Regions from separate parts of the Homo sapiens genome. Here regions 1 and 2 are each reported to be linked to region 3. Evidence: microRNA targets listed by miRTarBase, many of them from high-throughput screens and not tested one by one. Region 3 holds a microRNA gene; each other region holds the end of a gene's coding sequence.

What was found. Region 3 holds the annotated microRNA hsa-miR-4709-3p (UUGAAGAGGAGGUGCUCUGUAGC, at 914-936, opposite strand). A microRNA usually pairs through its seed, bases 2 to 8, with sites in the 3' UTR of a target mRNA and lowers its output. Matches are read on the target gene's strand: a 7mer-m8 pairs with bases 2 to 8, a 7mer-A1 pairs with bases 2 to 7 and ends in A, and an 8mer does both.
Region 1: the mRNA of POLE3 is a reported target of hsa-miR-4709-3p. Seed matches in the 3' UTR shown: 7mer-m8 at 2,174-2,180 and 7mer-A1 at 1,850-1,856.
Region 2: the mRNA of PHLDB2 is a reported target of hsa-miR-4709-3p. Seed matches in the 3' UTR shown: 7mer-m8 at 1,929-1,935.

The regions. Positions count from the first base shown.
Region 1 is chr9:113,406,092-113,409,091 of GRCh38, forward strand. It overlaps POLE3 (DNA polymerase epsilon 3, accessory subunit), which reads right to left. Exons shown (of 5, transcript NM_017443.5): 5 at 1,144-2,892. The coding sequence ends at 2,720. Among named protein-coding and RNA genes, the nearest start is that of POLE3, 3.1 kb to the right of the region's middle.
Region 2 is chr3:111,974,216-111,977,215 of GRCh38, forward strand. It overlaps PHLDB2 (pleckstrin homology like domain family B member 2), which reads left to right. Exons shown (of 18, transcript NM_001134438.2): 18 at 208-2,302. The coding sequence ends at 348. Among named protein-coding and RNA genes, the nearest start is that of ABHD10, 3.3 kb to the right of the region's middle.
Region 3 is chr14:74,479,222-74,482,459 of GRCh38, forward strand. MIR4709 (microRNA 4709) reads right to left here and starts at 983; the gene lies at 912-983. It overlaps NPC2 (NPC intracellular cholesterol transporter 2), which reads right to left. Exons shown (of 5, transcript NM_006432.5): 4 at 1,481-1,558; 5 at 719-1,067. The coding sequence ends at 1,053. It also overlaps a transcript of SYNDIG1L not described here.

The DNA.
Region 1 (3,000 bases), not on the chromosome of region 3:
CCATCCTGGTCAACATAGTGAAACCCCATCTCCACTAAAAATACAAAAATTAGCTGGGTGTGGTGGCGTGCGCGGCTGTAGTCCCAGCTACTTGGGAGGCTGAGGCAGGAGAATCACTTGAACCAGGGAGGTGGAGGTTGTAGAGAGCCGAGATTGTGCCACTGCACTCCAGCCTGGTGACAGAGTGAGACTCTGTCTCAAAAAATAAATAAATAAAAATAAAAAAGGGTTAATACTTGAAAGCAGTTAGTGCCAGACACAGTAGGGGGCTCAATAAATGAAGCTGCTGAGAATCTAGTATGTATAAGGGTGCCCAGCACATCCATGAAAAGCTCTTGCACCGGCCAGGCATGGTGGCTCACCCCTGTAATCCCAGCACTTTCGGAGGCCGAGGCAGGCGAATCATGAGGTCAGGAGATCGAAACCATCCTGGCTAACACAGTGAAACCCCATCTCTACTAAAAATACAAAAACAAAATTAGCCAGGCATGGTGGCGAGTGCCTGTAGTCCCAGCTACTAGGGAGGCTGAGGCAGGAGAATGGCGTGAACCCTGGAGGCAGAGCTTGCAGTGAGCCGTGATCATGCCACTGCACTCCAGCCTGGGAGACAGAGTGAGGCTCCGTCTACAAAAAAAAAAAGCTCTTTCAGCAGGTGTGTTGGCTCACGCCTGTAATCCCAGCACTTTGGGAGGCTGAGGTGGGTGGATCACCTGAGGTCAGGAGTTTCAGACTAGCCTAGCCAACATGGTGAAACCCTGTCTCCACTAAAAATATAAAAATTAGCTGGGCATGGTGGTGGGTGCCTGTAATCCCAGCTACCTGGGAGGCTGAGGCAGGAGAATTGCTTGAACCTGGGAGGCGGAGGTTGCAGTGAGCCGAGATCATGCCACTGCACTCCAGCCTGGGCGACAGATTGAGACTCTGTCTCAAAAAAAACAAAACAAAACAAAACAAATGCTCTTGCAGTAGTTCAGAGCCCTTGCCTGTGAATGAGCAGCACCTGCTGGTCATCCAAGGCGATGCAGTATCTCATGTTTACAAAGGTCTGGCCAGGACCACACGCCAAAAACTGCATGGAGAGTATCATCAGGGGCTCTCTCCAAAAACACACTGTGAACAAGCAGCATGAAACAGGAGGCATCATTTTTTAACAAGACTTTTATTTGTACAAAGCATTACAATCTTCTCAGCATTCTTCACTCACAAACTTTTCACTGTATTTAACAAGTTAACAGTGTCAAACTACACGTCACTACCTGTCAAACCCCAAGCACTCAACTTAGAAACAAAAAGCGCTTGGAGCACTGAATGGAAACAGAAAAAGGCTAAGAAAGGCCAACAGAGATATTTTAGAAGCAGTTAAAGAGGATGGTTTAGGGAGAGTTAGATTCCTGAGCACCATCAGATTTCCCTTAAGGTTTTTTGTGAAGGGGCTTCACAAAATAATTTTTAGAAGACATGAGACAAAATTAGCCAGGCTTGGTGGCACGCATCTGTAGTCCCAGATACTCAGGAGGCTCAGGCGGGAGGATCACCTGAGCCCAGGATTTCAAGGATGCAATGAGCTATGATCATGCCACTGCACTCCAGCCTGGGCCACAGAGTGAGAGACTCCATCTCTTAAAAACAAAACGTGAGATTAGAACTAAGGAATCAAGAGATCAGAGGAACTCACACTTTGGAGTATTAAGCAGGTTATCAAAGCTTACAGACTGACAGAAGTGAGAAAAGGAGGCAGATGAGAAAGTGGGATGGGGAGCAGAGGAGAGGCAGGAGAGAGAAAGGAAGCAGGAGGCACAGAGGGAGAAAGCTGTGCCTAGAGAAAATCAAGTTTGGCACTCGTCATGAATTGAAGAATGAAAAGCCATAGTCACAAGTCTGGGAGATGGACTACAAGAAGAGGAAGCCTGGGGTTTTACACCTTCCGGGAGGTGATGACAAATCCTAAAGCTGTACAGTAGCAGAGAGTAAGGTACATCTGACACTATGCCATCTGTTTTTGTAAAAGACACTGGCACCATGTTTGACTAATACCATTCCACACTGCTGATTTAAGAATATCTGTGATCAGATTACTACCACACCAGCAGGCCGATCATCTACAGGCAATATAGAAAGGTTTTGGGCCAAGTGGGTCTATGAAAAACAAAATTCAGTTAATGCTTCTGTCAAGTGAAGAGAGAGAACGGATTTTGTTATTCTCCCACAGCATTTTAGTAGTTTCCTAAAGCTTACTCATTCTGAGCAGTCTTAGTAAGCTACTATTGTCAAAGACTGTGCAATCAAACATAGGCTGACCATAAGCAAAGCCCCAGTTTTTCCTGAGCCTTGGCTGCCTCTGTGATCTGGAACACAGCAGGCAGCATGGAAGTTATTATTACTTATTTGGGGGACTAGGGAAGACTGCAGATCAAAAACCATCTAACCATACATTTAAGTAAACAAAAGCGAGCAAACTGACTAATTTAGTCGTTCAGAATCCCTCTTGTCAAAAGGCCATAACCTTCAGATTGATGAAGCAAAACAGGATTCTGCTACTCAGATGCTCTGAGTTTGGTAAGTGCTGGTTTTGACGGTATTTCTAGTCAGTTTTTATTCTGATCTTTTCAGGCACTTTTGCCTGAGACTACTCTGCCCAGCATGGAAAAGCTTCACAGAAACACGTAGCACGTCTCATTTCAAGTGGTACCTTCCAAGGTGCCACAGTCTCCCGCCCTTTTCAGTTGTCTACTTCTTCCTCTTCATTCTGTTCTTCTTCTTCCAGCCTTTCTTCGTCTTCATCATTGTCCTCATCCCTGCTCTTGTCTTGCTCTTCCGAGTCTGTTTTTTTGTCTTTGTCCTTCTTCTTTTGCTCTGAGGCCTCCTTCTTGCCTTTCTGCTCCCGCCTATATGCTGTAAGGACGGAACAAGGGGTTAGGAGACAGAGCTGAAAGTGAGCCAGACGGACTGCAGGAGCTAATTACATTGTACAATTGGAAAAACGGAGGCAGATGGGCGCGG
Region 2 (3,000 bases), not on the chromosome of region 3:
GAGTTCTGTCTGAGATTTCCTGTTCAGAAAAATGGTCAATCCTGAAAAAGGCTCTGGGACAGGTGTGTGAGTTATAGTAGAGCAAAAGTAACGCCTTTGTAAATTTAATAAATTGAAAATTTTGAAGAAGTCATCACATGTCTGTGTTATTTAATGTTGTATTTTAAGATGTTTATTTTACATTCTTTTTCCTTTTTTGAATTTTAGAGTCCTAATCCGTTACTCACCTTTAGCGTCAAGACTCATGACAGAATCTATTATATGGTAGCCCCATCGCCAGAAGCCATGCGGATCTGGATGGATGTTATAGTTACGGGGGCAGAAGGTTACACTCACTTCTTGTTGTAGTGAACTGAGGCAACAGTCCACTTCAGGGCAGACGGCAATAATCTCTTACAAGAATGAAGCCATATTCAACCCCAGATGAGAAAACCCAACAGATCCATCCCTTGAGCTGTAAACACTCAGAACTCCTTTCATATCAAGACAAGTTATTTGTAAAAAATAAAGAAGGGGTTTTAATACAAACCTTCATAATAAATAGCAAAATAATTGAAGCTTCCATGAGAAAGAAAACACTATTTTGATAAATTGGATCACTTATAGGAACATTTCTAATAAACTGTTTTTAATCAGTTGTCGGATTTGGTGAAATAAACTAAACAGGTTACAGAATATCTGTATGTACTTGGAAATACAGAATAACTTTATCACCCAAATCACTGGCATTGACATTATTGGTAATCAACTGGCTTTTTTTAAAAAAGGTAGCATTTTGTTGACAGTTATTTTGTAAACATAAGCAAATAAGGGCTTGGAGGGAAATACATTTTAGGAGGAGTTTTGCCTTAATTTTTTAAGTACTGCACCAAAACCAAAGAGCTGACCTGACTTCTGTGGAACAGTAGTAACTGCAAGTGATGAACTGCATTTCGTATTGTTCTGTATATTTCAAAATGGTATTTTGATGCCATCAAATGCCCAGGAAATTGACTTTGCAGTGTCACCACTGGTGTAAGCTACTATATATGTATATATATATGTAGTAAACCACTTTTTGTAAAAGAAGAAAGAGCAAAAAGCTGTGTGTTTTAGAAAAAAAAGCCAGGTTACGCAACAGGCATTCTGTCATGTTGAACAATTTTAAATAAAGAGAATATCTGGTGTTAGGAGCTTGTTTTGCTGAAGATTTCTCCATTCCTGGTGCTGAGAATAAAGGCAACCAGTAGCCAATGTCCTTTAGATTGTCTGATTTCTTTTTGTTGTGGAGCACACCTGCTAACTGCTCCCTCAACATAACTATGAAATCATAGCTCTGTTTTCACCAAAGAACAGACCAATTAACATACTTATTTGCAGAAGTGGTGTAGTTCTATAAAACGGCAAATGAAGTTCAACTTAATATTCTCTATAATGTATTATTTTATTTTATTTTTTACAATTAGCCTTTTTTTTAGTTAATTTTTGTCAAATGAAACGACTTCAGGCAAGTCTCTTTTATAATGGTTTTTCAAGTGCCATTTATTCTAGTTTATCATGTTTTGCATGTTTGAAAGTATGAATGTGCTCTTTCCTAAAACATGGCAAATGAATAGATGTAGAGAATAACAATATTACTTACAAGATGAAATGATTAGATTAGAAGTGTCCCTTTATTAAACTTTGTCAGCCTGACTGGGTACAATTCTTTTGTTAATTTGCAGTGTGGTTTGTATACACGTATACGTGTTATCAATAATAAGATTTTGCAACTGGATGACACAAGATTTTACTTGAACAGTGAAGGACAAAAATCATGATTGTGGAAGATATTTTTAAAATCTGATTTTGCAGCGATCACTTTTAAACCCTGTAGTGATGTAAGACTAAAATATAATTGCTAAGATTTTGTTGGTTAATGTAAAGATATGACTTTTCTGCACTGTACTCTCTTCATAGGATTGTAAAGGTGTTCTAATCCAATTGCATGATGTAGTAAGCCTCTTAAATATGTGTGTTAAATATATTGAGTTTGGATTAAAATGTTGACATGATTTCACATTTGAAAATAAACTCATCTCTTATTTTGAAGTTACCTATCTGTAGTATGATGGAGGATGAATTAATCGCAAATGACAGTTGTAGAAACTATGTAAAGTTTGTTGTGTGCTAACATTATGATTTGTAGTGTATAAACTGAAGTATTCCAATAGAAGTATCTCTGGTTACATCCTATTGCTTACAAAATGAAATGAACCCTGAAAAACTCTGACATCATATTGTTGTCTGTTTACACAGATACATTTATTGCTGGGGATTGCAAGGAGTGTGTTTACTTATCCTTATCTTACACGAAAAAAAAATCATGTAAATGTGATATAAAGCTTTATTTGGTGGGGCATCTCATTTGTCCCCCTGAACTAAGGCAGCAGATTTCAGAGAGAGAAGCTTCCCTCAGCAGTATGTCCCTTTGCCCCCTTTATATATTGATGAAGTCAACATTGACAATAGGTACCCAGAGTGGAAACAAATTTGTCTACTTCAAGCTCATCACTGTCCGTAAAAGCATCTGTACTTGCTACTGGCCATAATTTTTTCTAATTTGTTAGACAACAAGAGTGAATACAGAAAACAATCCATGGGTTTCTCTGCTTTTCTGTGCAGTGATTTTCCCACTATGACCAGTCAGATTTTTCATCTTACTGCAAGTAAAATGCAAGAAGACTTGCAAAAATAAAGGGGAAGAAAAGGGAGAGAAGTGATTGAGAATATTTGCAATTATCCAAAACATGCAGAGAGAAGTGTTTGTTAAGATATAAGGGATGGGCCAGGTGCGGTGGCTCACACCTGTAATTCCAGCACTTTGGGAAGCCAAGGGGGGTGGATCACCTGCAGTCAGGAGTTCGAGACCAGCCTGGCCAACATGGTGAAACCCCATCTCTACTAAAAATACAAAAATTAACCAGGCATGGTGGTCGGTGCCTGTAATCCCAGCTATTCAGGAGGCTGAAGCAGGAGAAT
Region 3 (3,238 bases):
CTGGTGGTTTTCCTGGGAAACTCACAGACCAAAGAAATCCAAGGGTCTAGTGAAATTAGTGGGATGAAAAGAACTGGATCAAATCAATCACTTGCTCACAAGCACTTTGTATGAATGTTCCTTCCTTTTGCCCTAACAATGGATGACCTAAGGTCCATGTTATTCAACTCAATTGTGAATGGGGTTGTAATCCCTGTACCACCTAAGAGCTGACTGCTAGTATACTGACTCAAAATAGGTGGCAAAATATATGCCCATGATTATACTTGTACTTTAAGATAGGAAACTCCAAGATTTAATTAATTTAGCCATTACTTGCTACAACTTCACATTTCATTTTTAAGCTTCTAGGCTTTCTTCACAGCAGTGTTCCCAAAAGATCACCATGCCTCATCCTAACCTGTAATCCCTAACCCCTACCTGCCCTCCCCACCAAATTCAGTTCCTTCAACCTTTCAGGCGTTATTATTCAACTAGGTGATTTTTACTTTCACTGCTTCTTTCGAGCATGCTTGGTGGTATAAGATTGTGTCAAATAAAGCAAAACAAGGCCATTTTATATAAAATAGATATGGTCTTACTGGACAAAAAGGAGGAAAAAGAGTTTCTGAAAAAGTCATGTCTTCAGTGCACTCTGGGACCACGGAACTGGGGGCCTGCCTTCCATGGTTCTAGCAGAATGTACCCTGAAAGGAGCAGGAGAAGACCACAGCCCACATGCAGAAGACAAGACAAACGAGTTTTTATTTATTCAAGAGTAAATTTCCAGGTGTAGAAAGAGGCCACAAGTTAATGTTGTTAAAAAAAAAATTAAACATCTGCTAACCAAGTGCTGCATTTAATGAAACCACCTAAGACAGAAAAAGAGACATGAGACAACCACTGAGAACCAGCCACCCGGAGCTCAGTTTCTGCTACAGAGCACCTCCTCTTCAACGAATCACTGGATACCATTGGAGAGCAAGTCACTGTTGTTGAAGCAGCAGAGCTGGAGGTGCTGTCAAGAGTCTCAGCAGACTCATTGGCCAGATGCACCGAACTCAATGAGGCACTTAGAGATGAGAAACCTGTGGATGTAATGTCCCAGCTCAGTGGAAGTGGTTTGGAACCTTTCCTCCACTGTCAGGGCAATAACCCTAGGGCAAGTTATCAGACATTCCTAAGCAACCTCCTTCAGGTCCTGTCTGGCTGGACCTTCCTTACTCCGACAGAAAAAAACCAATGAAGACAGTTAAATCAATCTCTACAGTCTCACTCTCTCTTCTTTCCTTCAACCTTTTTTTTTTTTAACAAAGGATATTACAAAGGCAACAGTTCTGAGCTCTCAGGAAATAGGGTCTCAGATGCTTTTAGAGGTTGAGAGGCATAAAACAGCAGTCTTGAAATTCCTTTTATCTTATGGCACTGATTTAGTTTCAGTCTGATTTCTCCTCCACTTTCTTCCCTCCACCCATGCCCTCTCACCCCCAGATAGACTTACGATCTGTACTGGGATTTCCCAGCAGAAGAGACTTTGGTTTTTGTCATCCTGAAGTTGCCACTCCACCACCAGTTTTATCTGGAGAAAGAGAAAAATAATTGAGAAAAATGAAAATAGGACCTGACTTCTATCCATAATTGGTTTAACTATGAATCCTAGATGTACAGTAGCAAACTTCCTAACTCCTCATACTTTTTTTCTTAAATCATGAGGGCTGCTTAGCATGTGGGCACAGCTTACAGCCTTAAGAGAGTGAACAAAGTTATACTTGTGATTTGATGCTAGCAGCACCACATACTAACTTGGTTAATTTATCAAATGTAATTTCTAAAGCATTCTCTTCTCTCTTAGATCAATGGCATATAAATGAAGTGATACGGTTTGGTTATTTGTCCCTTTGAAATTTCATGTTGACATGTGACCTCCAATGTTGGAGGTGGGCCTGGTGGGAAGTATTGGATCATGGAGGAAGATCCCTCATGAACGGCTTAGCACCGTCCCCTTGGTGATGAGTGAGTTCTCACTGACTTCACATGAGATCTGGCTGTTTAAAAGAGTCTGGGGCCTCCCCCTTCTCTTTCTTGCTTTAGTGCTGGCCATGTGACACGCTGGCTCCCCTTTGCCTTCTGTCCTAACAGTAAGCTTCCTGAAGCCTCACCAGAAGCAGGTGGTGGCACTATGCTTCAGGTACAGCTTGCTGAACCGTGAGCTGATCAAACCTCTTTTCAAGTTACCCAGTCTTAGGTATTCCTTTACAACAAGGCAAATGGACTAACACATGAAGGCTTACATGAATAATTTCACATTTAAGCAATTTCTCATGTATTTGGCAATCTGATCCAGCTTTTTCCCAATGTAACCATGAAGAGCAGAGAGTAAAAAAAATTTAGATTCTTAGGTATAAGGAAACGTTCTTGTTAGCTAGAAATGGAAATGTCAAAGCACAAAAGATGGCCTAGAGAAGTCTGTAGCTGTATGAATAATTTCAAGGATGACAACCTTTTGTAGCAATATACTTTCAGTTAACGCCCTTAAACTGCTTTCTAATAATGTACTTCATCAGAAATCCCTGCCTTGACTTGTTACACTCATATCACGTGAGTGGTCCCTTCCAATTCTTGATAACTCACTGACACTCTGCAGGTCCTTTCTTATGTGGACATTAGCTTACTTGTCACTAGTTACTACCTCTCTTTTGTACTCTAATGTTTCTTCACAATGGAACATGTGAGTGGCACTGATATTCAGGTTCTTGAAACTTGCCTTGTGAGTTTTTCCAGACTAGTATACATTAACTACTGCTTCATTTAGTGCTTAAGCAGTTTGAGCTATTTTTCAAATTAAATGTAACTCATTTAACAGACAATAACTACCATACATTAAGTACCTACTACGTATCAGGCTCTGACTAGTCACTGCATACGTAACTGAGGTTCAGACATGCCCATGGTTATGTGGATATTCATCTACTAATCTGTCCCTGACCTCTAAGGTCTCCAACAGCCCTTAAGCACAGACATCCTATATTTGAGTCTCTTTAGAATGTTCTTTAATTACTTACCTTTCCTAGAAAATAAATGGCCAGATATTGCTCCTGAGTTCTACTTGATTTCAAGAAATGCGGCTCTTTTTCTTCATGGAAAAAGGCCATCCCTCTATTTCCTCCATTCTTATCAAGATACATATCTTTAATACAGGTCCACTGCAGCAGGATCTACCTTATGAGTGCTTGGTAGAAAAAGAGGTAGGTGCAGCAGG